Linked DNA regions of Homo sapiens. The protein of the gene in region 1 interacts with the protein of each later gene in a pairwise test. Each region holds a gene or a part of one and is shown in the gene's direction. Other genes may lie near its edges. The genes, in order: TNFRSF10D, RMDN2, RBP1 and TARS2.

Region 1 (7,458 bases):
CAGTGAAGGTGTGGAAGCCAGCCCTTCATGCCTGTGTCTCCCCCCATTTTAGACAATCAATGTTTCAGTTGACTGTTCCGCTTCCCTATCAAATTATTACTCTAAGGAGGATATCTCTCTGCCCATTGCTAAACATTATGCACTGAACAGCCTGTTTCTCGGTCCAAGGAAGTTCGGTTTAGTGGTCCAAACTAGAATAATACCTTCTTTCAGTTCTTTTATATTAATAGCACTCTGGGCATTTGCAGCCTCCACCAGGTAAGGAAAAGACAATCCACAGTCAGTTTCTGTTGCTGTCGAGACTCACCTGTACCCCCCAGGGCACTGCCCTCAGTCTCACTTTCCAAGTATGTTGAGGGCCTCCTCATCAGGGAATCTGCCTCATAGCTATAGGCAGTCTCTGTCTCTCCCGCTGCTAGACAGAACAGCTCTTATTGGTGTCATGTGCCTGAGAGAGAGCAAGAGGAATGTGTTTCGATTCAGCCCATCTCTGCGTCACTGTGGTTCCCCCATATCCACTTCTTTTGCTTCGTGGCCTCTGGTGACCACCTCAAGGGAGTACACGGGGGTATCTCTTGCTGATTACAGTCACTTTCTAAACCTGAGGGTGGGTTCTACTGACCAGCATGGGCGTGTCTTACTTTAATGCACTCCTCAAGCTCCCCTAGAGATTTCCATAGGGTCGGGCCTCATATGGACATCCCTACACTAGGTCAGTTTCCCCTTACTCTTGGAAACAATGGAAAATGTAGAGACGAATATCCAAATTTAATACCCTTTATTTGGAAAGTAAGAATTGCAATTCTTGGCATACACAAAGACCAAGTTGTCTTTGGTACGTCCAAAGAACAAAGAGAAGTTTGGAAGTTTTTTTTTTTTTTTGAGACGGAGTCTGGCTCCGTTGCCCAGGCTGGAGTGCAGTGGCGTGATCTCCGCTCACTGCAAGCTCCGCCCCCTGGGTTCATGCCATGCTCCTGCCTCAGCCTCCCGAGTAGCTGGGACTACAGGTGCCCGCCACCACGCCCGGCTAATTATTTTGTATTTTTAGTAGAGACCGGGTTTCACAGTGTTTGCCAGGATGGTCTCGATCTCCTGACCTCGTGATCCGCCTGCCTCGGCCTCCCAAAGTGCTGGGATTACAGGTGTGAGCCACCGCACACGGCCAGATGTTTTTTTTTAAATGAGAAATACTAAGTATTTTTTTTTGCAGAAAGTTCATTGGCGCTGTAAAATTTGAAGAAGTGGCATGCTCTGACTGGTGAGTGACTGCAGTGGGTCAGGCTGGTCTTAGAGCAGCAGCTGGTTGTGTCAATAGATATAAGACAGAACTATTAATAGTTTCACGTTACAGCTGCCAGACTTACAGAGAATTGCAGTTTGGGGGTAATACAGTGATTTTTCTTCCCCATGGCCTCTTGACTCTGTTTTAGTTGGGTGTGACAAGAATGACCCAATTTGTGCGATCAACTTTCACATTCTCCTTCCCAACTCTATGACCGGGACATTGACGACTGTCCATGAGCCAGAAAAAAACTCAAGTACAGGGGCTTTTGCTGCTGTTCAAATCTTCCATAAGGCTAGGAAAATAGCATGCAATCCAACCCACCTAGCCAATTTGCCTTTGCCTTCTTCCATCAGAGGGGTGGCCTTCCAAGTAGGATGTTGTCCATTCATCTAGGAATGACTGTCTACAAACTAAGTAGCTCTTGGTCAGTAAGTAAAGAGCTGTGTATAGGGCAATGTCCAAGTGACCACAGAATCCAGCAGCTCCTCACCCAGTTCCAGACTCAGTCTGAGGGGAACAGAGGCTCCCTGCTCATGAGTGTCTCCTCTTTGCCTTCCTCAGGCACCAGGATCCCATATCAACCATTTCCATTTTTTAGGCTGAGTGAGGTGGCTCACGCCTGTAATCCCAGCACTTTGGGAGGCTGAGGCGGGTGGATCACGAGGTCAAGAGATCGAGACCATCCGGGCCAACATGAAGATCCCTCGTCTCTACTGAAAATTCAAAAATTAGCCAGGCGTGGTGGCATGTGCCTGTAATCCCACCTACTCGGGAGGCTGAGGCAGGAGAATCGCTTGAACCCAGGAGGCAGAGGTTGCAGTGAGCCTGGATCGTGCTGCACTCCAACCTGGCAACAGAGTGAGACTCCATCTCAAAAAAAAAAAATCCATTTTGTAATAGAACTCTTCTGGGACTGGCCTCCCCGTTAGAGCTTTTCCAAGATTCCTGAAGACATCATCAGTTTTTCAGGTTTCAAGATTATTTTATGTCCTTCAGTGACAGGGGAGACTTCAGTTAGTGTTCCATCTCAAGCTAGTAAGTGCCTCTTAAGTGGAAACTTGACTCTAAAGGCCCAGTTCCTTGGAGGTGCTCACAGCCTTTTGCCATTAGCCCTAGTCAGTGCTCCACACAGGGCACAGAGAATGCGTTGTTACCTGCAGTCTGGTTTCTGGTCTATACTGTGTGGTCCACCCTCCAGGGCCAAGGGAGCTAAGGTGCTCTAAGGACTTTCCTGCAGGCCCTGGTGGCTCTGTGTTAATGCTGTCAGTCTTCCTGAAGTCCCTGACCTTTCACCTCCTGCCTGGATCTGCACCCCGCACACATTCCTGACCCCACACATTTCTCATTGCCTGGGTCCTGGCACACATTTCTGACCCTAGCTCAGTGTCTGGGGCCTGGCACACATTTCCGACCCTAGCTCAGTGCCTGGGGCCTGACACACATTTCTGACCCTAGCTCAGTGCCTGGGGCCTGACACACATTTCTGAGTCTAGCTCAGTGCCTGGAACCTGGCACACATTTCTGACCCTAGCTCAGTGCCTGGAACCTGGCGCACATTTCTGACCCTAGCTCAGTGCCTGGGGCCTGACACACATTTCTGACCCTAGCTCAGTGCCTGGGGCCTGACACACATTTCTGAGTCTAGCTCAGTGCCTGAAACCTGGCGCACATTTCTGACCCTAGCTCAGTGCCTGGGACCTGGCACACATTTTTTTTTCTTTTTTTTTTTTTTCACAGAGTCTCGCTCTGTCACCCAGACTGGAGTGCAGTGGCACGAATCTCGGCTCACTGCAACCTCCATTTCCTGGGTTCAAGCAATTCTCCTGCCTCAGCTTCCTGAGTAGCTGGGATTACAAGTGCCCGCCACCACGCCCAGCTAATTTTTGTATTTTTAGTAGAGATGGGGTTTAACTATGTTGGCCAGGCTGGTCTCGAACTCCTGACCTCTTGATTCGCCCACCTCAGCCTCTCAAAGTGCTGGGACTACAAGCGTGAGCAACCGCGCCCGGCCCTGGCTCACATTTCTGACCCTAGGTCATTGTCTGGGCCCTGGAAGGTGCTCAGGGTGATCCATCGCTCAAATCCAAGCCTGTGGAGAGGATGACATTTCATTCCCAGGTTTCTCATGAGCCAAAAAACCTTCATTTCTATAGCGCTATCCTCTTCTATCTACCATGTGAGGGGTCAGGAGCCGACTCATCCCAAGGGTCTAGGAGTCCTGCCATTGACCTTACTGCTTAGGGTCACAAGCTGGCACCCTTCAAAACCACACATTGGGTCTGCCCTCACAGCGGCAGTGTGTTCAACTGGATGGGGAGGTAAGTAGCCCAAGGTCAGACAGTTGGACCTGGGTAGACAATAGACTTGGGGACAGACTTTGGAAGGCACTCCCCTGATTCCCCTGTCTCCATGGGGCCTCAATACTAGAGCCCTCAAGGTTGGTCAGGGAGTGTTTGTGCTTTGACCATGCAAAGGGTGCCAGGTTGTGGCTAGGGATGCCCCCGGCGTTCCTCTCCCTCCTACCTACTCCTCAGCCTCTGCAGGTGCCTGTCATGGCCTCTGTGTCCTTCATTCTGTCCACTCATGTGTTCACTGGGCCCCTCCTTGGTGCCAGGCACCCGCTACTGAGGGATACCAAGCCCCTGCCAGAGAAGCTTGGAGCTGGGTCACAGCAGCAAGGAGGCTGGAGACATCAGTGGCATCAGTGCACTGGTCAGTGAGGCCGCTGTGGGAGGAGGGAGTGGGAGCAGAAGCTAAGAGTGGACTGAAGTCCTGAGGCCAGGAAGTAGTTCAGGGTTTAAGAAGAGGAGAGACAGGCGGCCCGGGGAGGGAGCAGGCTCAGGATGGGCCTCCAGTGCCTCCTCTGGAGCTCACTACCCAGACTACAGCAGCGCAGCGGGCAGCGCCTCAGCTCCTTCCCCTTCTGCTGCCTACAGCCTGGACAGGACCCGGAATCAAACCGCAGGCCCTGGGTCACCGCTGCCGGAAAGAGCCAGTTCCTGTCCGTCCATGCACCCACCCACACAACCTGGGCCCTCCTGGAGGTGCTGGGGGAGACCCAGCCTGAGTGCCTGGAAGTGACTGCGGGAAGGGAGTACAACTGACCACGCCTTTTTTCCGGGGTATAAAAGCGGAGGAGCACGTTCTATTCTGGCAGTGTAGCTGCGAGAACCTTTGCACGCGCACAAACTACGGGGACGATTTCTGATTGATTTTTGGCGCTTTCGATCCACCCTCCTCCCTTCTCATGGGACTTTGGGGACAAAGCGTCCCGACCGCCTCGAGCGCTCGAGCAGGGCGCTATCCAGGAGCCAGGACAGCGTCGGGAACCAGACCATGGCTCCTGGACCCCAAGATCCTTAAGTTCGTCGTCTTCATCGTCGCGGTTCTGCTGCCGGTGAGTCTCCGCCGCGGTCCCTGGCTGGGGAAGAGCGCACCTGGCGCCGGGAGTGGGCAGGGAGAGAGGGGGACACGGTGGGGATGCTTGGCCCGGGTCGCCTGCGGCCGGGCATGTCTGGGCAGGACGAACCCGCCGTCGGAGTCAGGGGAAGAGTGGGGTGCCCGGGCTGGGCAGGAGCGACCGGGCCGCGAGGGAGCAGAGCGCGCGCTCCCCCTGGCTGTCCCGTGCGGCGAGGACCGCACTGAGCTGCCCCAGAGGAAGTTCCAGAATCAGCGGAGGGAGGGAGTCAAGATGGAAACCCCGGAGTGAACCTCAGGAAGCCACAGAGCGGTTGCCTCTTTCGTTCGTTCGTTCGTTCGTTCGTTCATAACGTTAACCCAGGCCGGTCGCGGTGGCTCACGCCTGTAATCCCAGCACGTTGGGAGGCCGAGGCGGGCGGATCACCTGAGGTCAGGAGTTGGAGACCAGCCTAGCCACCATGGTGAAACCCCGTCTCTACTAAAAATACAAAAATTAGCCGGACGTGATGGCGGTCGCCTGTAATCCCAGCTACTCGGGAGGCTGAGGCAGAAGGAGAATCACTTGAATCCGGGAGGCGGAGGTTGCAGTGAGCCGAGATCGCGCCATCGCACTCCAGCCTGGTCAACAAGAGCGAGACTCCGTCTCAAAAAAAAAAAAAAAAAAAAAAAAAAAGTTAGCCAGGCGTGGCAGCCTGCGCCTGTAGTCCCAGCTACTCAGGAGGCTGAGGCAGGAGAACTGCTTGAACCCGGGAGGCAGAGGTTGCAGTGAGCCGAGATTGCACCACTGCACTCCAGCCTGGGCGACAGAGCGAGACTCTGCCTTAACAAAAACAGACAAACAAACAAACAAAATTAACCCTATGTTTACACTGTTACACGTGTTTCTTGGAGATCAGTTTAACAAACAGCCTGTGAAAAAGCTTTCCAACGCTGTTTTTTGTAACTTTCATTTCCTATAGAACCCTGAAAGTGGCAGGAAGCGGTTAACCAAGGTGCTTGCAGTCAGTGTCTTCCACTGCCACCCGTGTGTCCCCTCTGTATCCCATAGGCAGGACCGCGGGATGGCCCCTTCCTTAGGCATAAAAGATGTAAAGTTCTCGTTGTGAGTTGGGTTTGGAAACTGAGATTGGTAGTGGGGTGCACAAGAAGGACATAAAAATAAGATGTGCAGACTGCCAGGACTTTTTCTGAGTGACTGACGTTTCTGCCAACAGTGCTTTCTAAGGTTTCTTACGTAATACCAAAAAACAAAACGGGGAGGATAAAACAAGATTACATGAACCATGAGAGTCTCCATGTTTTCTTTCAACGAAGTAATACTAAATTCAGAACAGCAGTGACATTTTCACCTCTCAAAAATTACACAACTGACTTCTACAATAGTTTATAGTGGGTGGACCTACCTGAGGCAGCTAGAAGAATGGCTGTGTCAGGACAGTGGCCCTGAAGAGAGAATGTGTGGATGACCTGTGTAGACAAGACCAGCAACCTGAATTTCACAGTTTTGGGAATGTGAACTCTATGCGTCCCAAAGGAGGCTTTGATCCCTCCATCAATCTTGCCTTATTAAATGCATTTCAATGCACAGTTGCTTTTTAAAATTTTGGAGCTAGCACAAATCACATTAGATGTTTTATGGCAGTACATTCAGATTGATTTTCTTTTAAACAAGGGTATTGTATTTTACTACATGGGTAAGCCACAGGTTAATTCACTGTTGCCATCTAGAGGCAGCTGGTTATATCCCATCCCGATGGGATATAACCCAAAGCAAATTTGCCTTTGCTAATTCCAACAGCATTGTACTAAATACCCTTGTATGTATCGTGTGTCCACATGTCCATGCGCACCAGCTTATTGGGCAACTCCTTAGAAGTAGAATTTTACTTCTACTTCCGTGGGATAAATCATTTCAGAAGTTTCTTTAGATGTTTACGAATTTTCTTCCAAAAGACCATTGAACTCAGCTTACACTCACACCTAGTTCACACATGTGCCTGTATCCCTACACCCTTGTTACACTTAGCTTTCATTCGTTGCTAGTCTAGGAAGTAAAAGGTGATTCATCACATTGTTATGTACTTTCATTCCTTAATGGTATTAGGAATTTTCAAGGATACGGGAGTTTTGGTAGTGGGAGTAGATGACCGGGGGATCCAGATGAGACAGCAGGGGAGGGTGGCAGGGAAGACTGAATTCCCAGCTGTGAACTTGGAGAACCGTGGTCAGCTGGGGCCAGTCCCTGCCACCTGCCACGCCTGTAAATGGAGATAAGGTCTCCATCTTCAGGCTGTCAGGAGGACATCAGATGAGCCTGGAGCTGAGCTCAGTTCCTGACCCCAGGTCCTGGCTCTGTCAGCGTTGGACTGTTCCAATCTGTGTGACAGAGGCTTCCGCCCCGCCCTTCTCTTTATCAAAGTAGGAATCGAAAAGATCCAACGGCCCAGAATCTCGGACTCTGAGGCTCTCAAGGACTCCTGAGATTGGAGGCTGGGAACAGCTGGGCCCTGCTGTGCTTCCCCTCCAGCTCTGTGACACTGGTGTGGCCCCAGCTCCTGCCTGTAAAGTGAAGAGGAGATAAAAATCTTCAGCAGCCCTGTGTAAACCTCAGAGGGCTGTGTTAGCAGGTGTGGGAGGATGAACCACATCCTCAGGGCTGGTGTCAGTCACTCCGGACTGGATCCCCAGGGCACATGTCCTCCACCCAGCAGAGGCTGCACCTGTTCCTACTTGCACCTCCATACCAGGCTCCC
Region 2 (7,364 bases), on another chromosome or scaffold:
CACTGAGCAAGGTTAGTACATGCCTTTTTGAAAATGACTTTTTTCATGGAACAAAAACTTAATGTTTCTAATGAAATAGAAAGTTTCTAATAAGAATTCTATATCTTAATTAGGTATGTATACTTTTAATAAATTGATTCAACATTGAACTGCTAAGTAGCATAACATAAATATCGTTGTTAATTTTTCTTTCATACATATCTTCCTAAAATACCATTTTTAATTTGTTCAGTATAGGAGTATTAGGCCAACCATTTTATTGGATTTAAGTGATTAATAATTTATTGCACTAATCACTTAGTCTATGGAAATATTTAATAAGCTTATCCTAATGCTTTTTTCAGATAAAACATTTTTACCTTAGAAAGTCCAAGTTAGTTTCTTTTCAGAAATTTTTTTTGTAATTTTCCTGTGTTCTAGAGACTGCCTAATTTTTTTAAAACTACATCAGACATAGTATTATATTCCTCTTTTCCCCAAATTCTATTCCTAGCCTAACCTGAATATCATAAACACAAAGTAATTTTATACTCTGTGGATTAGAGGTTGTGGTAAACTGCAGAAAACCCCCCATGGGGCAAATGATCAGATTTGAGAATTCAGTTTCTCCTCTAACAGAAGCAGTGAAAGCTGAACCCTAAATAACTGAAGTGGGGGATACAAATGATGTAATATCACATTAGAAGGGCTATGATGTTCTTGTAAATGGTGCTATGAAGAGTCCCTTCAAGTGTTCTATCAAAGGCAGGGTCTGGGGGTCCAAGATGGGCTGGGTTAAGAGAAAAGGCTCTCAGACAAAGTTAAGTTTGATATTTGTCTCTAAAACTGACTATGTGGCCTGGGACAAGTTTCTTCACCTCTTGAAGCCTTGGTTTCCTCACCTGTATGTTATTTACTTCATTAGATTGTTGGGAAAATGGAATAAGATAATTCATATAAAGAACGAAGCTTGAAAACTGTGTAGAAGACTCAATAAATGTTCCTGCTGTACCTGTTGCTGCTGCCCTTTGCTCCTCCTCGTTTACAAATGATTCGGGGAACTCAGAGCTTCGGTTACACCTGGGGGACTTCTTCCTCTGCCCCTGCTCTTTGCCTGTGCGCTTCTCCCTCTCTAAATCCCTCTCTCTCAATGGTTAGGGTGTTCTTAATTTAAAAGTTTTTCCCCAGCTATTTGCAGTAAAATATTTCCTTAACCCTTTCCTTAAAATACTTTCTTAAAACCAGCCTGGAAATGAAGGTTGATTCTGCTCTTTGAAGCGGGGGTTGGGGATTTCATAGTGGTACTAATTATACCTGCAGCTCAGCCTTCAGTTTACAAATTAAGAAATTCAGCTTGTAAGTTTGATAAGATTTGGAAATAACAACAAGGAACTAGAAAATGAATAGTTAACTATATAGCATATTGGTAACTGTTAAAGGGTTAAAACTAACTTTGTCATTCAATTGCTTCCTGGAAATAAAACCACTCAAATAAAACCTAAAAAAAAAAAAAAATTGACACTCCCATCTCACATTACTATAATGAAGGACTATACATTTCCTCATGCTTTTCCCTCAAATGTACATACTACTTTCAAATAGTTATCTAATATAGAGGGTGTGCACCATGCCAGGTTCCCAAGATACAAAGATAAATGCTACCATCCTTGAAGATGTTCACAGCCTCACAAACACACAGTCACTGGCAAGCAGTAATTATATAGTGTACACCAGAGAGGTTTGCTGTAAGCTAGCAGGGAGGCATTTTGTATTCATTGAAACTCCTGGTCCTTCCATAAGTTTTGATGGGGCATGGATGAATACTTCTTATGGGGAAGGAGAGAGTGTGTAGCTTCTCAAGGGAAAGAGGTTGAAGTGGTTGAATTGGTTTTGGACGGGTGGCAAGCAACAGGATATTCCAGGCACAAGGAACAGGATAAAAAGGATACAGCTTGTGGAGAGACGATCAGTAGCTTAGCTAGTGCTGAAGTGTAGAATGATGTCTGGTGGAAGTAGCGGAGAAAAGCTGGAAAAGTAGGTTGGGGCAAATCGTGAAGGGTCTGTACCCACTCCTCCCAAATGATTGTCATGCCGTACTGGTTTGATGAATAACAGCAACTCTGAGATTCTTAGTATGTTCTGGTTTTTCCTTCAGATATTCCTTTTAGACTGACATTCCTAGTAGTGGGGAGGGGAATCATTTCTGCTTTTTTATGTCACCCCTGCAACAGTACCTGGCAAAGATAGCGCCTGTCTTTGCTATTTAGTTACAGCTTTGCCAAGGTCAATGGTTGTCACTGTCCCTGAGTTTCTACCTTTCAGATAATTTTTACTCATCAAGGAATAGAAACAAATGTATTGGAAAGGAGCAAGTGTGACATAGTCTATGTCCTGAACCTGAAGATCAAGTCAGTATCAGCTGCCATCTTCCTCTTGGAATAGACTGGTAAGGCCTTGTTCACAGCCCATACGTCACATTTTTATTGAAAGCCTCTTCTGTGCAATGTGCTGGGGATGCAGCAGTGAACAACTCAGTGGGCTCCTGGAAAAGCTTAAATTTTGTTTTAAATACTGAAAAGCTCCTTTTAAGTATTAGCGAAGAGACAGTCATGTTTCTTTGGTATCTAAATCTTGTTAAAAGAGAAAATTGTTTTGCATGATCGGTTTATATCATATTGTATTCTAGTTAAATAAAGCTAGCATTATATTGCAAGATTGCTGCAAACCATAATAAATAGGAGTGAAGTGGGTTTGTAGAAGGTAATATTTTACTAGTTCCAAATCTGAGAGGTTAAAGATTAATCTGCTCTTTTTCCAAATACAACTTAGGTTTTTGCTCTTGTTTTTTGAGACAGAGTCTCATTCTGTCCCAGACTGGTGAGCAGTGGCCCGATCTCGGCTCACTGCAACTTCTGCCTCTGAGGTTTAAGCAATTCTCATGCCTTAACCTCCCGAGCAGCTGGGACTACAGAAGTGCGCCACCACACTCGGCTAATTTTTGTATTTTTAGTAGAGATGGTGTTTCATCATATTGGCCAGGCTGGTCACGAACTCCTGGCCTCAAGTGATCCGTCCGCCTCAGCCTCTCAAAGTGCTGGGCTTACAGTCGTGAGCCACTGCGCCCTGCTACAAATTACTTTTAATAAAATGACCATGGCCAGGCTTACTTATTCTTCAATGCGGCTTGCCTGAAGCTCAAAAAATCATCTTAAAGAGCCTATAGAATCCCTGAATCCCTATCCGTAAACAGTAGTATATGGATTGCAAAACAAGCCTTCTGGATTCTTCATGGCTTTATGGGTGTTGTCTGCTGTTGCTGTTTTGAGAAAGAGTGTACCCATTTTTAATTCTGCTCAATATATTGGTGGGAAGTTTAGAGATTAATGTTATGCAAACCTAAGCTTGAGGCAGTAATACTCAAGGTGCGGACAATACAGAAGCAGTGTATGTACTGTTTTGTTTTTGTTTTTGAGACGCTCTATCACCCAGGCTGGAGTGCGGTGGCGCGATCTCGCCTCACTGCAACCTCTGCCTCCGGGTTCAAACGATTCTCCTGCCTCATCCTCCCAAGTAGCTGGGATTACAGGCGTCCACCACCACGCCCGGCTAATTTTTTGTATTTTTAGTAGAGACAGGGGTTTCGCCACGTTGGCCATACTGGTCTCGAATTCCTGACCTCAGGTGATCCGCCTGCCTCAGCCTCCCAAAGTGCTGGGATTACAGGCGTGACCCACCGCGCCCGGCCCAGTTTTTAAGAGCGTATTTAGCAGAATTAGTTTCATTATACAAACCACAGAAAGCTGGGTAAAACCTTAAATGTCAGGCATCTGAAAAAACAGCGGCTTTCATCTAAAGGCAACTCGGAATGGCGGGGAGAAGGAAGAGGCTGTCAAAATTGCTCATTAAAAGAAAACGTGAGATAAAGCTATGAACACGGGGCTGCAGATATCAGTAATTAGTGCAAGGCGTCTGCCTTTAATTCAGTCGTGAGGAGTAAAGTGCAAGGTTGTGCCTAGAAAGGGCACAGAAAAAGGTTTAACTAGGGGAGAGGGAGTGGGTTTGAGAGCCGGAACGAAGCGAGCTGGCGGTGGGCGTGCGGAGTGGCAGCAACGCGAGAGGGAACGCGCTGGGGCTAGCGCGGAGGCCCAGAGCCCAGGCGGGGGAAAAGGTGCCGACCGGCTTCGAAGGGAGGCGACGGCCGAGACACACGGTCCGGCGCGAGCCAGGCGCCCCGCGACGTGCAATTTTATTTTGCAAAAGGTGCACCCAACGCCAGTCCCGGTAGAGTTGAACCCACCACGAGAGGGAGAGGGGGCGGGAGCGGGGGGCCGAGCGGCCGCGGGCTCCTCCCCCGGCGCCTCCGCTATCTGGGTCAGGACGCGACGGCCGCGGCGCGGGACCTTAGGACCCGCGGGCTCCAGGGCTACTGTCCGTCCGCCACTGCGCGCCAGCAGGTCCTGGTCTCCGCTCTCCAACAGCTGAAAGGCCGGCGCAGTGAACACAGGTGCGTGCGCAGTCTGGGAGGGGGCTGCTCAGCCGCTGGGGGCCGGACCGCGCCGGGGACTTGCGGAGGGAAGCGGAAATACTTGCGGTGGGGGCGACTGCACTTCCGGGTCGGTGTGTCCCTGGCGAAGCTTGAGCCTGCTAGCCAGCGGTGCTCTGCGTTCCCGGGGCTGGAGCAGCGGCCCATAGTGGCTTCCCGGGTTCATCCCTCGCTGACCCTGCGCCACGGAAGCCCTAGCCCCGGAGGTCGCTGGTATTTCCTCGCACGCGGACCCTTCTGGGGTGCGTGGGGAACAGGCAGTTTGCTGCCTCGGCCCGGCTGGTCCCTGCAAACCCCAAAGAATTTCAACAGAGACACTTGCTGGGCTCTCGCTCGGCTTTCAGCCTTGCGCAAACATTTTGTTTTTGTTTGTGTGGGGTTTTTTTTGCTCTCAGACTCCGTCTGTGCCTATTTCACACAAAAACGAAGGCCGGATTATCAGTGCTGCCAACATAGGGGAATGAGGCAAACACTTGGGAGCCCTAAATTTAAAATAAATTATAAAATACAAAAAAACCATGAAAACCTGATGAAATGAACAATAGAATTCACTTCGAAAGTACCAGGTTTTCCAGGACGCTGTAGGAAATCTGATCACTAGTTCAAGGTCTCAGTGCAATTCTCTTAGGAAACTTAAACCTCGGGCTTTTTTGTAATGTCTCTTTATCCTTGCAAAATTTGTCATACCTTCCCCGAGTTTATTAGAGTTATGCATTTTATATTTTTCTCCTCTAAGGGTCTGCTGATGAAGTTAATGAATATCTGTGCTAGATTTATGGTGAAAGCATTATAATTAATTTAGTAAAGCATAATTTCTACATCAAAAAATTAATTTTAAATAAAACTAGAACATGGAAATGAAATGTTTCTTCAGACATTTCTTCAGAAAACATTTCATATTCTATTTTCTTTAGAGTCAACATTTTGATGTCATTTTAGAATACTTGATTCTCATCTCAACCTTTAATATTACACAATAATACACATTAATTAAGTGCCATAATCTATATTAAAATGTCATTTTCCATTGTTATTTACTAGCACCTTACAAATTGAAACGTAACATAATACTTTGTATCTGATTATTAAAATATTAGAGTTTTAAAATCTGTTTGGTAAAGTTTTTAATTACTATATTTTTTTATACTACAAGTGTATACTATTAACATAATTAGAAGTATGAAAGCTAACAAGGCTGGAGGCAGTGGCCCATGCTGCTTATCCCAGCACTTTGAGAGGTGGAGGCAGGATTGCTTGGGCCCAGGAGTTCGGGACCAGCCTAGCAACATAGGGAGACTCACTCTCTACAAGTAATGTAAAAATTAGCCGGGCGTGGTTGCCCACGCTTGTGGTCCTAGCTACTAGGGAGGCTGAGGCAGGAGGATGACTTGAGCCCAAGTGGTCGAGGCTACAGTGAGCAGTGATTGTACCACTGCACTCCAGCCTAGGTGACAGAGCGAGACTCTAAAAAAAAAAAGCTATGTAAATGACTTCATACAACCTTTGAAATTATTCTGAAGGCAAGCAAGTACTCTGATGTATTTTGTACATTATTTTTAATGTGTCATTTTTCAAATTATCAGTGTTGAAGCACATTTGTTTTATGCTGTTATAAAACTCAAACATAGCTTGAACTGTTAGTCTTTAATTGTGTTTGTTTAAAACATCAGCTCCGTTGATTCTATTTTTTTCTAGTTAATTTTTGTGGTTCTGAAATAATATTTCAGCTTTGAGCATCTCTGTTCAGTCAGTACTCTCCTTCACCTCCTTGTTGATGCTTTCCAAATCTCCCACATGTTGTGGGTGCATCCAAGAGTTAGGAACAGGTTGTCAAAGGTGACAGTTTTCACTTCCCAGTTGGGTGATCACTGGGTAAGTGACTTGACACCTGTGTGCCTCAGTTCACTTATCTGCAAAATAATAATAGGACCTGCATGGAAGAGATGATTTGGAATTGGTGCAGTTCCTAAAGAAAGGGCCAAGCAAAATAAGACTTTCCCACCTGCTGAAACCTGGTCCTGTCTCAAGAATAAGTTCTCCTTCCTAGGTAGATTTTTACTTCTACTTATTTGCTTATTAAATGAAAATATTTTCAAACTAGGCTATATTTCTTAATGTAAAAGTCCAAGGTATGGGCAAAAGAAAGCAATCAGAATAGGAAGATTTCCTTTAATAGACCTCTATATCAGCGAATGGACATCCTGCCTGAATAATTTTATTGACAAAAATAAAGATGATTAAACTTGATGTGTGAATATTAGCTGGAATGCAGTTGTAATTAATGGGCATAGAGTGACTTATTTTTTTGCAATAAGCTTTCAAGATAATTTAGTTTTGTGATACAATTTTTTTGTAGAATACATTTACACATCTAGCAATAATTAGCTACAATTTCAGCTGAAGTTACAAATTGATTGGAATCTGTTGCTGGCATGTCTCCTGGATGAGCTGGGAGTGGGCAGATGGTTATAGTTCCCAGTTATACCAATTAGGTGAAAAAAAATTTTTTTAAGTTAATTCCAGGCAAATTTCTGTGAGGTAAAGCAGGCCAGATTAAGTACCAAGGCTTTCTCTGGAATCTTTGGTTTAAAAGAAGGAATTCTTAAATCTCTTGGATATAATATTCACTAACACCTGAGGTAATTTCTGGAAGATTATTTTAAAGTCAGTCCTTCTCTTTGACACTTAGGCCTGTAATGAAGTGTAGAACATCCAAACAGGATACTTTCTGTGTTCCAGGCATATACTCTAGTGAAATAGGAATCCAAAGACGTTCTTATTTTAAGCAGGCTTTTCAGAAATAGATTATGGCTGCTTGTTCTCTCAGACCCTCTTCCATAGG
Region 3 (5,832 bases), on another chromosome or scaffold:
AACACTGGCTTGTTGTCATTTCTCCCTCATCACCTCCTACCCCTTTCATCCTTTTTCACTCTGCCTAGAATGCCCCTCCCATTTTTAGAAACTCCTTTGAGGCCATGACAGCCTGGGCACTTCTCTGTGGGGACCTCTACAGGCAGAAATCTTTAAGACCTCTTTCTGACTCCCAGCACCCATACCCCCACAATGGTTGGAATGAACTTAAGGGTGTTCCTCCAGGAGTCTGCTCGGAGTCTTAGCACAATGTCCATGTGTTTTTCTGCAGCCCCCAATGATTTTAGCCACCATCTCGTGGGCACCTGGCAGGTGCCCTGCCCTAGACTGGGAAACAAGTGGGCACCAAGTCATGCAAAGCCCGTGCTCCAGCCCAGATTCTTTCTCTCATTTACTAGGTGACCAGAGAAAGTCATGGAACCTCTCTGAGCTCAGCCACCCCTCTACATCCAATACAGACAAGAATAATCTCTGCTTTGTCCAACTCCTAGCACTTTAGGAGGCCAAGGCAGGTGGATCACCTGAGGTCAAAGAAAATAATCTCTGCTTTGTCCAGTATCAGAGTCAACAGAAGCTTGGGGTTAAGAAAGGCTTTCTGGGAGACTGATGCAGTATGCATGTGATAGGGATCCTTCCCTTTAAGAAGCCTGGTTTGTAGGGCTCTCAGAAAGGCTCCTCTACACCCCAACAGACTTCTGCTCTCTCTATCCCTCAATCTGTCAAGCTGCCTGAAATTCTGCCATCTGTCATTCTTTTGGGCTAAGGTATTATTATTGTTTATATCCAGATGGCCCCTGTTAAAAGATGCCAGCGATCTGGAAATGGTAACACAGTAGCCCCAGGAGCAAAAGCATGCTTTACCATTAATAAACATCTCTCTCATGGTCATTCTCTGACCCTGGTGTTGGAAGGTAAATAGGTGTGAGCTTTCTGGAGATAAAGTTGGCAATACTCATCAAAAGCTTTACAAATATGCACACTCTTTGATGCAACAATTCCTCCTCTGGAAATTTCTTCTAAGGGAACAATGTGTTCAAAACTATGTATACAAAGAAGTCTTATTTATAGTAGCACAGAATTATAAATAAATAACTTAAATGTCCAAAATAGGTAATTGGCTAAATAACAGTATGTATGTACAATCAAATACTATCAGGGACTGTTTTGTGGGCCTGTGACAAAGGCAGTCCATCAGGGCCCCAGGCTCAGAAAGCCCCTCACTTGGTTTAATGCTCTGCTGTCACCAGCTTAAAAATCTTAATGATTTTGAGCAAAGAATCCCTCATTTTCATTTTGTGGTGGACCACACACACACTATGTAGCTACTTCCTAGAATATTACGTAGCAATTAAAATAATGCTTATGGAGAATATTTGTTGAAATGGGAAGTTGCTTCAATTAAATGAAGAAATGAGGATATGAAACCATAAATGATGCAATCCTAATTTTGTATAAAACAGAAACATGTAGATAGATAGATAGATATAAAAAAAAAAGAGTGGATGGAAATTTACCATACATTGTAACATATACAATGTTAGAGCAATTATCTCTTTTTTTTTTTTTTTTAAGACGGAATTTTGCTCTTGTTGTCCAGGCTGGAATGCGATGACATTATCTCAGCTCACTGCAACCTCCACCTCCCGGGTTCAAGCAATTCTCCTGCCTTAGCCTCCCAAGTAGCTGGAATTACAGGCATGCACCACCACGCCCAGCTAATTTTGTATTTTCAGTAAAGAAGTAGAGACGGGGTTTTACCATGTTGATCAGGCTGGTCTCGAACTCCTGACCCCAGGTGATCCACCTGCCTCAGCCTCCTAAAGTGCTAGGATTACAGGTATGAGCCACCACGCCTGGCCTAGAGTAATCATCTCTAAAGAAACAAAACTACATGTATCATTTTTATTACCATTTTCTTCTTCGGTGTTTTTTTTTTTAATTTTCCAATACAAAGACTATGACTATACTTCCTGACTAATATTTCCAGAAGAGGCAAAAATGTATGTCATAGCTGAAAACAAGCAATTGTCTCTTGTGCCTCTGAGTGAATCCGGAACCCTTCATATGCACAGTAGCCTTCTGGATAAACACATGAAGAGAAGATCAGTTGATGAGGAAACCAAGTGTTCTTATGAGCTTCTTGAAGCTGAGGACTGATTTCTGGGTCCCCACTTCCCTCTACAGGCCTGGGATGGAAGGAGCACGGATAAGTGAATGGGTGTCCTGTCTTATTTATGGCATGAGGTCATGAGTAGTCTTTACCCATGACATGTCTCACCACACATTAACCACACTATGTTTTGCGTTCTCTCTAGCCTGGGACTAGACTGTGCCCTGAGTGAATTTCTGGATCAGAGAGAGGATCTGCCCCCCAAGTCCTTTTATGCCCCATTTCTCTCTGGAGCAGAGAGCAGACTTACTCCTATGCAAAGCTGGGGGAGCACATGTGGCTCCACCTGCCTCCCTCGTGCATGTGTCGCATTGCAGGCTTCACCCCAACAGCAGGGGGCAGTAGTGATCAGCAGGCCCAGGTGGGAGGCCTGGGGTGGGGAGGTCCTCCTGCAGGGAGTGGCCCCACTAACGCCACACCCATCTCCCATAAGTCTCCTCTCCCAAATCCTTTATTCGGCTGTTGCTGACTGTCCTGACTCAGCTGAGCATGGCAAGGAACACAAGGATCCTAGAACCTTAGCTCTCTACATTCAAGGCCTGAGTTAATGTCCCCATGTGACAGATGAGAGCACAGGGGCCCTGAAAAGGGAAGGATTTGCTGAGAGCCACACAGTGAGCAAGGGGCAAACAGAGTGCTGAGCACTACTGTGGGGAGGCCAGGCTCATAACACAGAACTGCCCCATATGGGACGGCTATTCAAAAGAAGGTGGGCAGCCCCAAATATGAGTGATGCCCACTGCACTTTCTGTGTGCCCACATCTGCGACATGTGTCCCAGTCTAGGGCACACTCATGGCTATGCTGGGATGACAGGACCACCTTGCCTCTGAAGTCCAACACTTTTTTCAGCCCCGTGTTGCTAGGTGGGCCTTTTCTGCTCCACTAAGACTGAAATCTCCCCAGGACACAGGCTGGGCCTCCTCCTCCTGCCTGTCTTCCCTTCAGCATGCCCAGCACATGGCAGGGCTCACAGTGCTCAGGGAAGATGTGGGGGCTCAAATGTGGGGTGTAGAGGGTGTCACAGTGCTCATCTGTGCTCTGCCAAGCCCAGGCTGGGCTGTGGGATTTTCCTCGCCTTCCTCCTCAGTTCCCTGGTGCCCTCCTGATGAGCTCCTAAGTGTACTTCCCGCTGTCCCACCTCAGGCCTTCACCGGGTGGTGGGCTACTGGGAGCTCTTCTCCACAGCGCCTCCTTTCCTCTCCTTCAGCTCCATTCTTCTCTCCTTAGAGCCCAGCCCTAGTGAATCCCACTCCCTGGACTCTCACCTGGGCTCCCACAGCCTCTGGCCTATAACCCTGGTGACCATGAACGCTTCAAGAAGCAATTTAGTCCATTGGGGTGGGGACCTTCAGAGCCCCACAGATCTGTGTTCAGACCTGGTTCTTCTACTGAACAACATGGGTGAACTTGGCAAGTCCCTTAAGCTGATCTGTGAAAAGGAGATGCTAATCCCTGCTCACGTGGATAGGCATGAGGCTTCAGAGACAGCACAGAGAGTGCCTGGCAGAGCAGGTAGGCAGCTAACAGCTGCCATTTGTACCTTCACTGGGTTATTTATATCTAAGGTCATTCTCCCTGTGAGATGAAGAGCGCTTTGAGGGCAGGGGTGGGGTCTTTTTGGTATCCCAGGACTTAGCATAGGTTGAAACAATGAATGGATGAATGAAGTGTCTGGGGATGGTCAGGGTACACTCTGAGAAGTCTGCCCCTCACCATAAGATTCTGGAAAACATCCTTCACCCCTCACACCCAGCTGTGCTCAGCCCTCAGGCCCTCCTCTCCACCTTAGCCCCATTCTCAGTGCTTGCAATGACAGCCCCACTCCAATGACTTTTTCCCTCCTAATTACCCTTTTAAATAAAATTTATGAAGGTTTTCATAAATTTTAAAACTGATTTACACACTTTAATAAAAGCATGTGATGGACAGGGAGTATTAGGCTGCAGATTTTCTACAATGAAATTGACGTGAGCACATCCCAGATTATCAAGTTTGGGAGCTGCCCCCTCCCCCAGCCTCCAGGAGCTCCCCGCTTGCTCAGGATTGACAAATGTGTCTCTTTCTTGGCAGACAACAGTGAGCTGGGACGGAGACAAGCTCCAGTGTGTGCAGAAGGGTGAGAAGGAGGGGCGTGGCTGGACCCAGTGGATCGAGGGTGATGAGCTGCACCTGGTAGGTTCCTGGGCTGGGTCAGGCCGGGTCCCCAGAGGCCCTGGTCATTGTTGAGGTCCAGATGGACCTTGGAAAAAGGCACCATGGATGGGCCTTGGTTCTGTTCTAAAGCTTCTCTTCCAAGGGCCTGGAAAAGATGCCTGGGTGACTTTAAAAACCAAGCAATGTATTTTCAAGGTCTAGGCTGACCCAATCATCTAATCAGAGGGAAGAGGTGAGGAGTTATATCCATTAAGCATCAGCAATGAGCTAAGCCCTTTTGCATTCTATAACTCTATTCTCTCAGAATAGGAATATGGCTCTTATTTTAGAGATGAGGACCTGGGGGCTCTGAAAGATTAGATTACATGTCCAAATTGCACAACTAGAAAGTGACAGAACAAACATTTGCTCCCAAATGATGTATATATTCACCATGCCAAATTGTATAGGCCAAAGCCAAGAAGGATTCTCTAAGCTTCTCTAAGATATGATCTCAATCTGGGTCAGCGGGAGGTGATTCGGGAGGGGAAGCGTCAAGGGGTCCTGTTGGTCAGCTCTGAGCCACATCCATTCCTCTCAGCCAGCTCTGTCTGTAGGGTGCTGCAGAGCACTCCACTATACAGTTTAACTGTCTTTCCAAACAATTGGTTACTTAAACCAACTCTTGGGGAAAAATAACAGCCAATGAGTATTTTTAGAGTTCTTGCCGTAAGTGTGACTCTGCTCTGGCCAATGACCAACATCTGCTTTTGTTTCAGGAGATGAGAGTGGAAGGTGTGGTCTGCAAGCAAGTATTCAAGAAGGTGCAGTGAGGCCCAGGCAGACAACCTTGTCCCAAGGAATCAGCAGGATGTGTGGGCCAGGATCCCCCTCTTTGCACAGCATGAGGCAAAAATGTCCAGCCACCCCCAGGCATCTGTTAGCAGAGTCTGTCTCTTGGCTTTGTCACTTTTCCTTTTCTTAAAACAAAGCCATGCCAATAAAGTGATCTGTGTTCAAAACGTCTGTTTGGGGGAAGTTTCACTGCCCACTGTGCTCACTTTTTCTCCAGGGCTTCTGAGGCCAGCTTCTCCTAGTGCCACCCATGGGCAGAGTGGATAAATTCAGCCACATGTCCTGAAATTGCACCGTGTTTCTCTCCAGAGGCACAGGCTTGGGTCTAGAATGGGAGGTGGGAGAGTGGCCTGACATTCAATCATTTGTGTATCAAGTAGCTACCATGTTATGTATCTAATTGTGGCCAAAGTATAGTGAGTGCCACAAAAGCAGGAGAAGATACCTTCCACCCTAGAGATCCAACCAACAGAGAATGTCTATATAACTGCACAGTACACCAAGGAGATGCTTCATCATTATTTGTGAATGAAATGGAACTGGACAGAATTTTAAGCCCAAAGCATAAAATTACTTAAACATAAGTAATTACCTATTGGATTTAATTTCAGAGATGTCATGAGATGTCACCACCCTCAGACCATCCACCCCATCTACGGGCTGGTATCAGCC
Region 4 (7,027 bases), on another chromosome or scaffold:
CCAGCCTTTTTTTTTAAGCTTGTTACTTTTTAGTGGTCACCCCCAAAATCTAGGATCCCCATTTTGTGGTAGTTATTCCTAGAAGAACCATACCGGCTTTCCTACCAGCTTTTGTGAGGAAGAGCTCAGAGATCTAGGGGTTAAGGGAGAAGTTTATGAACTTGTGAACCCCTTTTTTGTGAACCCAGGTGTTCTGGCACTCCAGCACCCATGTCCTGGGGGCAGCAGCTGAACAATTCCTAGGTGCTGTTCTCTGCAGAGGTCCAAGTACAGAATATGGCTTTTACCATGATTTCTTCCTGGGAAAGGAGAGGTGAGTAATGAAAGGAAGGAGGAGAATGATTCTGGGATGGTTTCTGAGGCTCTTTTCAGGGGCCTTGGGCATGCTCCATTTGGATGAGGAAGCTGGAGGAGAAGGGTTTCTCTAGGTCTCAACTATGACATTAGTATCTCCTTCTGTGCTAGTCCATGTCCCTCTTCTAACTTTGCTTGAAATTTACCTTCTTGGCTGGTGCACATGTAGTCCCAGCTACTTGGGAGGCTGAGGTGGAAGGATCACTTGAGCCTGGGAGGTTGAGGCTGTGGTGAGCCATGATCTTAACCACTGCACCCAACTTGTGTGACACAGCAAGACACTTTCTCAAAAAAAAAACAAAAAGAAAAAGAAGAAACAACTTACTTTGTTACTTGTTAGCTTTCATAAATTCAAGTTTTACTTAATCGCCCTCATTACTATTGTTCTAACTTTGTCTATCCAGATTTCCTGCATTCAACTTTTAACTTCATGCATAGAGCTTTTTCTCCAGCTGTAATATCTGTTACCTGATATCCTATTTATATTTTCTCTGAGTTTGTCTGTCTTTGCCTATAACTCTAGATTTCTCTTGAAGGACAGGACCTTACCCGCTAGCCAACAGGTGTGTCACCCAGGTGATTGATGCACCTCATAGGATGCAACCCAACCAATTCTCCTCTTTCCAGGACAATCCGGGGCTCAGAGCTGCCTGTTTTGGAGCGGATTTGCCAGGAACTTACAGCTGCTGCTCGACCCTTCCGGAGGCTAGAGGCTTCACGGGATCAGCTTCGCCAGTTGTTCAAGGTGGGGTGGAGGGAAGAGGTGGCTCTTCCAGGACATCTTTGTGGGAATAAACACTTTTCTTCAATCTCCCTTCTACCTTTTTCCAGGATAACCCCTTTAAGCTTCACTTGATTGAGGAGAAAGTGACAGGTCCAACAGCAACAGTATATGGGTAAGAGTTGTCAAGATTAAGGCAAACAGAGAGGTGGGGAAGCATTGAAGAAGGCCAGAAATGCGATAAGGGAAGAAAGATAGAAGGTAATTTGTGTTGCTCCAGAAAAAGAAATGGGAATGGGAATTGATTTTTTTTTTTTCTTTTTTTGAGACGGAGTCTTGGTCTGTCTCCCAGGCTGGAGTGCGGTAGCACGATCTCGGCTCACTGCAACCTCCGCCTCCTGGGTTCAAGTGATTCTCCTGCCTTAGCCTCCAGAGTGGCTGGGATTACAGGCATGTGCCACCATGCCTGGCTAGTTTTTTTTTTTTTTTTTTTTTTTGAGATGAAGTCTTGTTCTGTCACCCAGGCTGGAATGCAGTGGCGCGATCTCGGCTCACTGCATCTCTGCCTCCCGGGTTCAAACAATTCTTCTGCCTCAGCCTCCCGAGTAGCTGGAACTACAGGCATGCACCACCATGCCTAGCTAATTTTTATATTTTTAGTAGAGACGGGGTTTCACCATATTGTCCAGGCTGGTCTCGAACTCCTGACCACGTGATCCACCCACCTTGGCCTCCCAAAGTTCTGGGATTATAGACATGAGCCACCGCGCCCTGCCAGGGAATTGATTTTTATCTGCCATTGCCCTCTCTCAGTAGGACAGTTCCTTTCTCTTCACCTCTTCTGTCAGCTAAAGACCATGAGAGGGAGAAAGCTAGAAGCTGAAGATTCTGAAAATCACTAACTGGCCTCTTCTTTCTCCTAGGTGTGGCACATTGGTTGACCTTTGCCAGGGCCCCCACCTTCGGCATACTGGACAGATTGGAGGACTGAAGCTGCTATCGGTCAGTTGTGGGACAGAGTTAGGTTAAGATTCCTATTTTGAGCCGGGCATGGTGGCTCACGCTTGTAATCCCAGCACTTTGGGAGGCTGAGGCAGATGGATCATAAAGTCAGGAGTTTGAGACCAGCCTGGCCAATATGGTGAAACCCCGTCTCTACTAAAAATACAAAAATTAGCTGGGTGTGGTGGCACACACCTGTAGTCCTAGCTGCTCGGGAGGCTGAGACAGGAGAGTTGCCTGAACCTGGGAGGCGGAGGTTGTAGTGAGCCGAGACTGCACTACTGCACTCCAGCCTGGGCAACAGAGCGAGAGTCCATCTCAAAAAAAAAAAAAAAAAAATTCCTGGTTTCACTGGGATGAGCAGGAGAATCGGAAGGTGATACTTTCTGTCGGCACCCCCCTTTTTTTTTTTTGAGACCAAGTCTCTCGGTCGCCCAGGCTGGAGTGCAGTGGCGCGATCTTGGCTCACTGCAAGCTTCGCCTCCTGGATTCAAGCAATTCTCCTGCTTCAGCCTCCCGAGTAGCTGGGATAATAGGTGTGCACCACCATGCCCAGCTACTTTTTGTATTTTTAGTAGAGACAGGGTTTCACCATGTTGGCCAGGGTGATCTCAAGTGATCTTCCCTTCTCAGCCTCCCAAAGTGCTGGGATTACAGGCATGAGCCACTGAGCCTGGCCCTGTACTCTCATAAGCTGAGCGGGGAATACAGGAGAAAGAAACTTTGTCCCCACATTCTAAAAACCCGTTTGATGGCACACACTGGACAGCCTGCTAGGGCCCAGAAGCCAATTCAGATGCCCTAATATGATGTCAGTATTAAGGGGGGTGGAGGGGTGGAGCAGGAGGGTGTGAGCAAGCTGGATGGGTCATACAGGGAAGGGTTGTAGAGAGAGGGGGCGTGGTCCAGGAGGAAGATGAACACCATTTGACAGGCACAGGGAAAATACCTTTAGTAAAGGGCATGCTTTTTATGAAAATACCGTTCTGCATGGTGGCTCACGCCTATAATCCCAGCACTTTGGGAAGCCGAGGTGGGTGGACCACCTGAGGTCGGGAGTTCAAGACCGGCCTGACCAACATGGAGAAACCCCGTCTCTACTAAAAATACAAAATTAACTGGGCGTGGTGGCACATGCCTGTAATCCCAGCTACTTGTGAGGCTGAGGCAGGAGAATCACTTGAACCTGGGAGGTGGAGGTTGTGGCGATCCAAGATCGTGCCATTGCACTCTAGCCTGGGCAACAAGAGCAAAACTCCGTCTCAAAAAAAAAAAAAAGAAAAGAAAATACTGTTCTGGACAAGAAGAGTTACTAGATGGAATGGGATGAGTTACAAGGGAGCAAGGGGAAATGCAGATGTGTAGAGCAAAAAGCTCTGAACTTAGACTGGGCATGGTGGCTCATGCCTATAATCCCAGCACTTTGGGAGGCCAAGGTGGGTGGATCACTTGAGATCAGCCTGGCCAACATGGCAAAACCCCATGGCGCGGTGGCCTTGGGTAAATCTTACTTATTTTCCCCATCTATAAAATGAGGCTATTAATTCCTTTTTGTCCTACCAGTAAATTCACCTCATAAAGATAATGAAAACCAGGCCAGGCATGGTGGCTCACACCTGTAATCCCAGCACTTTGGGGAGGGTGAGGCAGGCGGATCACTTGAGGTCAGGAGTTCGAGACCAGCCTGGCCAACATGGTGAAACCCTGTCTCTACTAAAAATACACAAATTAGCTGGGTGTGCTGGCCTACGCCTGTAATCCCAGCTACAAAAAAGGCTGAGGCAGGAGAGTCACTTGAACTCTGCCAGGAGGCAGAGGTTGCAGTGAGCTGAGATTGTGCCACTGCATTCCAGCCTGGGCCACGGAGCGAGACAACATCTCAAAAAAAAAAAAAAAAAAAAAGATAATGAAAACCAACTAATTCAGGAAAAAGGAAAAGTTAAAAAGTGCTGTAAAATACAGACTGTCGGCCAGGTGCGGTGGTTCACACGTGTAATCCCAACACTTTGGGAGGCCAAGTTGGGCGGATCACTTGAGCTCAGGAGTTCAAGACCAGCCTGGCCAACATGGTGAAACCTCGTCACTACTAAAAATAAAAAATTAGCTGGGCGTGGTGGCATGCACCTGTAGTCCCAGCTACTCGGGAGGCTGAGGCAGGAGAATTGCTTGAACTGGGAGGCAGAGGTTGCAGTGAGCCAAGATTGCACCACTGCACTCCAGCCTGGGCAACAGAGTGAGACTCTGTTTCAAAAAATATACATATAGGGGCTGGGCGTGGTGGCTCACGCCTGTAATCCTAACACTTTGGGAGGCTGAGGCGAGTGAATCACGAGGTCCAGAGATCGAGACCATCCTGGCTAACACCGTGAAACCCCGTCTCTACTAAAAATACAAAAAATTAGCCAGGTGTGGCCGGGCGCAGTGGCTCACGCCTGTAATCCCATCACTTTGGGAGGCTGAGGCAGGCGGATCATGAGGTCAGGAGATCGAGACCATCCTGGCTAACACGGTGAAACCCTGTCTACTAAAAATACAAAAAATTAGCTGGGCGAGGTGGCGGGCGCCTGTAGTCCCAGCTACTTGGGAGGCTGAGGCAGGAGAATGGCGTGAACCCTGGGGGGTGGAGCCTGCAGTGAGCCAAGATCACGCCACTGCACTCCAGCCTGGGCGACAGCGAGACTCCGTCTCAAAAAAAGAAAAAAAAAATTAGTCGAGTGTGGTGGTGGTGGCCTGTAGTCCCAGCTACTTGGGAGGCTGAGGCAGGAGAATGGCGTGAACCTGGGAGGCGGAGCTTGCAGTGAGCCGAGATCGCGCCACTGCACTCCAGCCTGGGTGACAGATGTATATACACACACACACACACGTATAGACTGTTTCTCATTAGTACTGTTTAACAGTTTTATTTTATTTCATTTTTATTTTTTTGAGACAGAGTCTTGCTCTGTTGCCCAGGCTGGAGTGCAGTGGCCTGATCTCGGCTCACTGCAACCTCTGCCTGCCAGGTTCAAGCAATTCTCCTGCCTCAGCCTCCTGAGTAGCTGGGTTACAGGCACGTGCCACCACACCTGGCTAATTTTTGTATTTTTAGTACAGACAAGGTTTCACCATGTTGGTCAGGCTGGTCTTGAACTCTTGACCTTGTGATCCACCCACCTCAGCCCCCCAAAGTGCTGGGATTACAGGTGTGAGCCACTGCGCCCGGCCTCTCATTAGTACTTTTTTGTTTGTTTGTTTGTTTGTTATTTTTTGAGATGGAGTCTTGCTCTGTCGCCCAGGCTGGAGTGCAGTGGTGCGATCGCGACTCACTGCTAGCTCCACCTTCCGGGTTCATGCCATTGTCCTGCCTCAGCCTCCCGAGTAGCTGCGACTACAGGCACCCACCACCACACCCAGTTAATTTTTTTGTATTTTTAGTAGAGACGGGGTTTCACCATGTTAGCCAGGATGGTCTCGATCTCCTGACCTCGTGATCCGCCCGCCTCGGCCTCCCAAAGTGCTGGGATTACAGGCGTGAGCCACCGCGCCCGGCTCATTAGTACTGTTAAAGGAGAGAGCAGGCAGAGGCTTTTGGATTTCATGTGGCCAGGAATGGGATATGGTATAGAAGACTGACTTTTCTAGCAGCTGTATAGGATATTGATAAATGGAGGAATAGACTGACATTTGACCAGAGCTTATGGTTATTCCTCTAAGCAGTCATTGATTAGAATGGGAAGGAACTAAGTAAAGGGGTAATGAGAATGGGGAGAAAAAGAGATGGCAAGGTAAGGTTAGGCCTGACCAGGTTGTATGTAGGAATTAAGAGTCAGGCAATTTCAACACTTTAATCTAGAAGAATGGTGTCTAGAGGATGGAGGTGTTCATCCTACTGGTGGGATTGTTGTCAAGAGGCATACCTGTGACACTTAACACTGAGAGTATCATTTGAGTCTTGAAAAAGGTGGGGGCCTTCAGTCCTCATCTTTCCTTTGATCCCCTATGTCCTCACACAGAACTCATCATCCTTATGGAGGTCTTCAGGGGCCCCAGAGACACTGCAGAGAGTGTCAGGGATTTCCTTCCCCACAACAGAATTGCTGAGGGTCTGGGAAGCATGGAGGGAGGAAGCAGAATTGCGGGACCACCGGCGCATTGGGAAGGTACAGGAATTGGGAAGATAGGGAGGGATGGTGATAAGGGTTGGAGAGAGATGACAGAACCTGATTATGAAATTGGGAGCAGATTCAGTCACACAGACTGAGCAGCTCCGTCAGTTGTTCTGAGTTCCAAAGCCACCTCCTTGCCCTTGAGGTGACCCAATATTGCTATTCCTGACCCCAGGAACAGGAGCTCTTCTTCTTCCATGAACTGAGCCCTGGGAGCTGCTTCTTCCTGCCACGAGGGACAAGGGTGTATAATGCACTAGTGGCGTTTATCAGGGTAAGGGGACCCAGGTCTAGAGGAAAGAAGACCAGGGAGGGGCTGAGGGACTAGAAGAAGCTAAGGTGTTTGTGTTAAAAGATGGGGGTTGGGGCCGGGCACAGTGGCTCACATCTATAATCCTAGCACTTTCGGAGGCTGAGCCGTGCAGATCACCTGAGGTCAGGAGTTCGAGACCAGCCTGGCCAACATGGCAAAACCCTGTCTCTACTAAAATAAATACAAAAAATTAGCCAGTGTGGTGGCAGCGCCTGTAGTCCCAGCTACTGGGGAGGCTGAGGCAGGAGAATCCCTTGAACCCAGGAAGGGGAGGTTGCAGTGAACTGAGATTGAGCCACTGCACTCCAGCCTGTGTGATACAGTGAGACTCCGTCTTGAAGAGAAAAAAAAAGGTGGGGGGGCTGGTTTGGAATCATAAACATAAATATTGAAAGTGCTGGTGACCTTTAATACTACAATTGTGTGGTCTGCAGTCGGGGAGCATAGAGATGGGACCTGGTATTTAATAGGTTGTGGTTGCAATCAGCATGG

Evidence for each region.
Region 2: the proteins of TNFRSF10D (region 1) and RMDN2 interact in binary tests that used the Homo sapiens proteins (3 or more experiments, as listed by UniProt).
Region 3: the proteins of TNFRSF10D (region 1) and RBP1 interact in binary tests that used the Homo sapiens proteins (3 or more experiments, as listed by UniProt).
Region 4: the proteins of TNFRSF10D (region 1) and TARS2 interact in binary tests that used the Homo sapiens proteins (3 or more experiments, as listed by UniProt).

What each region holds. Positions count from the first base shown.
Region 1 is NC_000008.11:23,161,010-23,168,467, reverse strand, and holds the start of TNFRSF10D (tumor necrosis factor receptor superfamily member 10D precursor), read left to right. Parts: upstream 1-4,440; 5' UTR 4,441-4,532; coding exon 4,533-4,682; intron 4,683-7,458. UniProt on the Homo sapiens protein: Receptor for the cytotoxic ligand TRAIL. Contains a truncated death domain and hence is not capable of inducing apoptosis but protects against TRAIL-mediated apoptosis. Reports are contradictory with regards to its ability to induce the NF-kappa-B pathway.
Region 2 is NC_000002.12:37,920,943-37,928,306, forward strand, and holds the start of RMDN2 (regulator of microtubule dynamics protein 2), read left to right. Parts: upstream 1-4,344; 5' UTR 4,345-4,483; intron 4,484-4,588; exon of another isoform or gene 4,589-4,764; intron 4,765-7,364.
Region 3 is NC_000003.12:139,516,933-139,522,764, reverse strand, and holds the end of RBP1 (retinol-binding protein 1), read left to right. Parts: intron 1-4,242; coding exon 4,243-4,344; intron 4,345-5,084; coding exon 5,085-5,138; 3' UTR 5,139-5,327; downstream 5,328-5,832. UniProt on the Homo sapiens protein: Cytoplasmic retinol-binding protein. Accepts retinol from the transport protein STRA6, and thereby contributes to retinol uptake, storage and retinoid homeostasis.
Region 4 is NC_000001.11:150,490,413-150,497,439, forward strand, and holds part of TARS2 (threonine--tRNA ligase, mitochondrial), read left to right. Parts: intron 1-188; coding exon 189-313; intron 314-981; coding exon 982-1,099; intron 1,100-1,185; coding exon 1,186-1,250; intron 1,251-1,932; exon of another isoform or gene 1,933-1,998; coding exon 1,999-2,077; intron 2,078-6,069; coding exon 6,070-6,216; intron 6,217-6,397; coding exon 6,398-6,496; intron 6,497-7,027. UniProt on the Homo sapiens protein: Catalyzes the attachment of threonine to tRNA(Thr) in a two-step reaction: threonine is first activated by ATP to form Thr-AMP and then transferred to the acceptor end of tRNA(Thr). Also edits incorrectly charged tRNA(Thr) via its editing domain.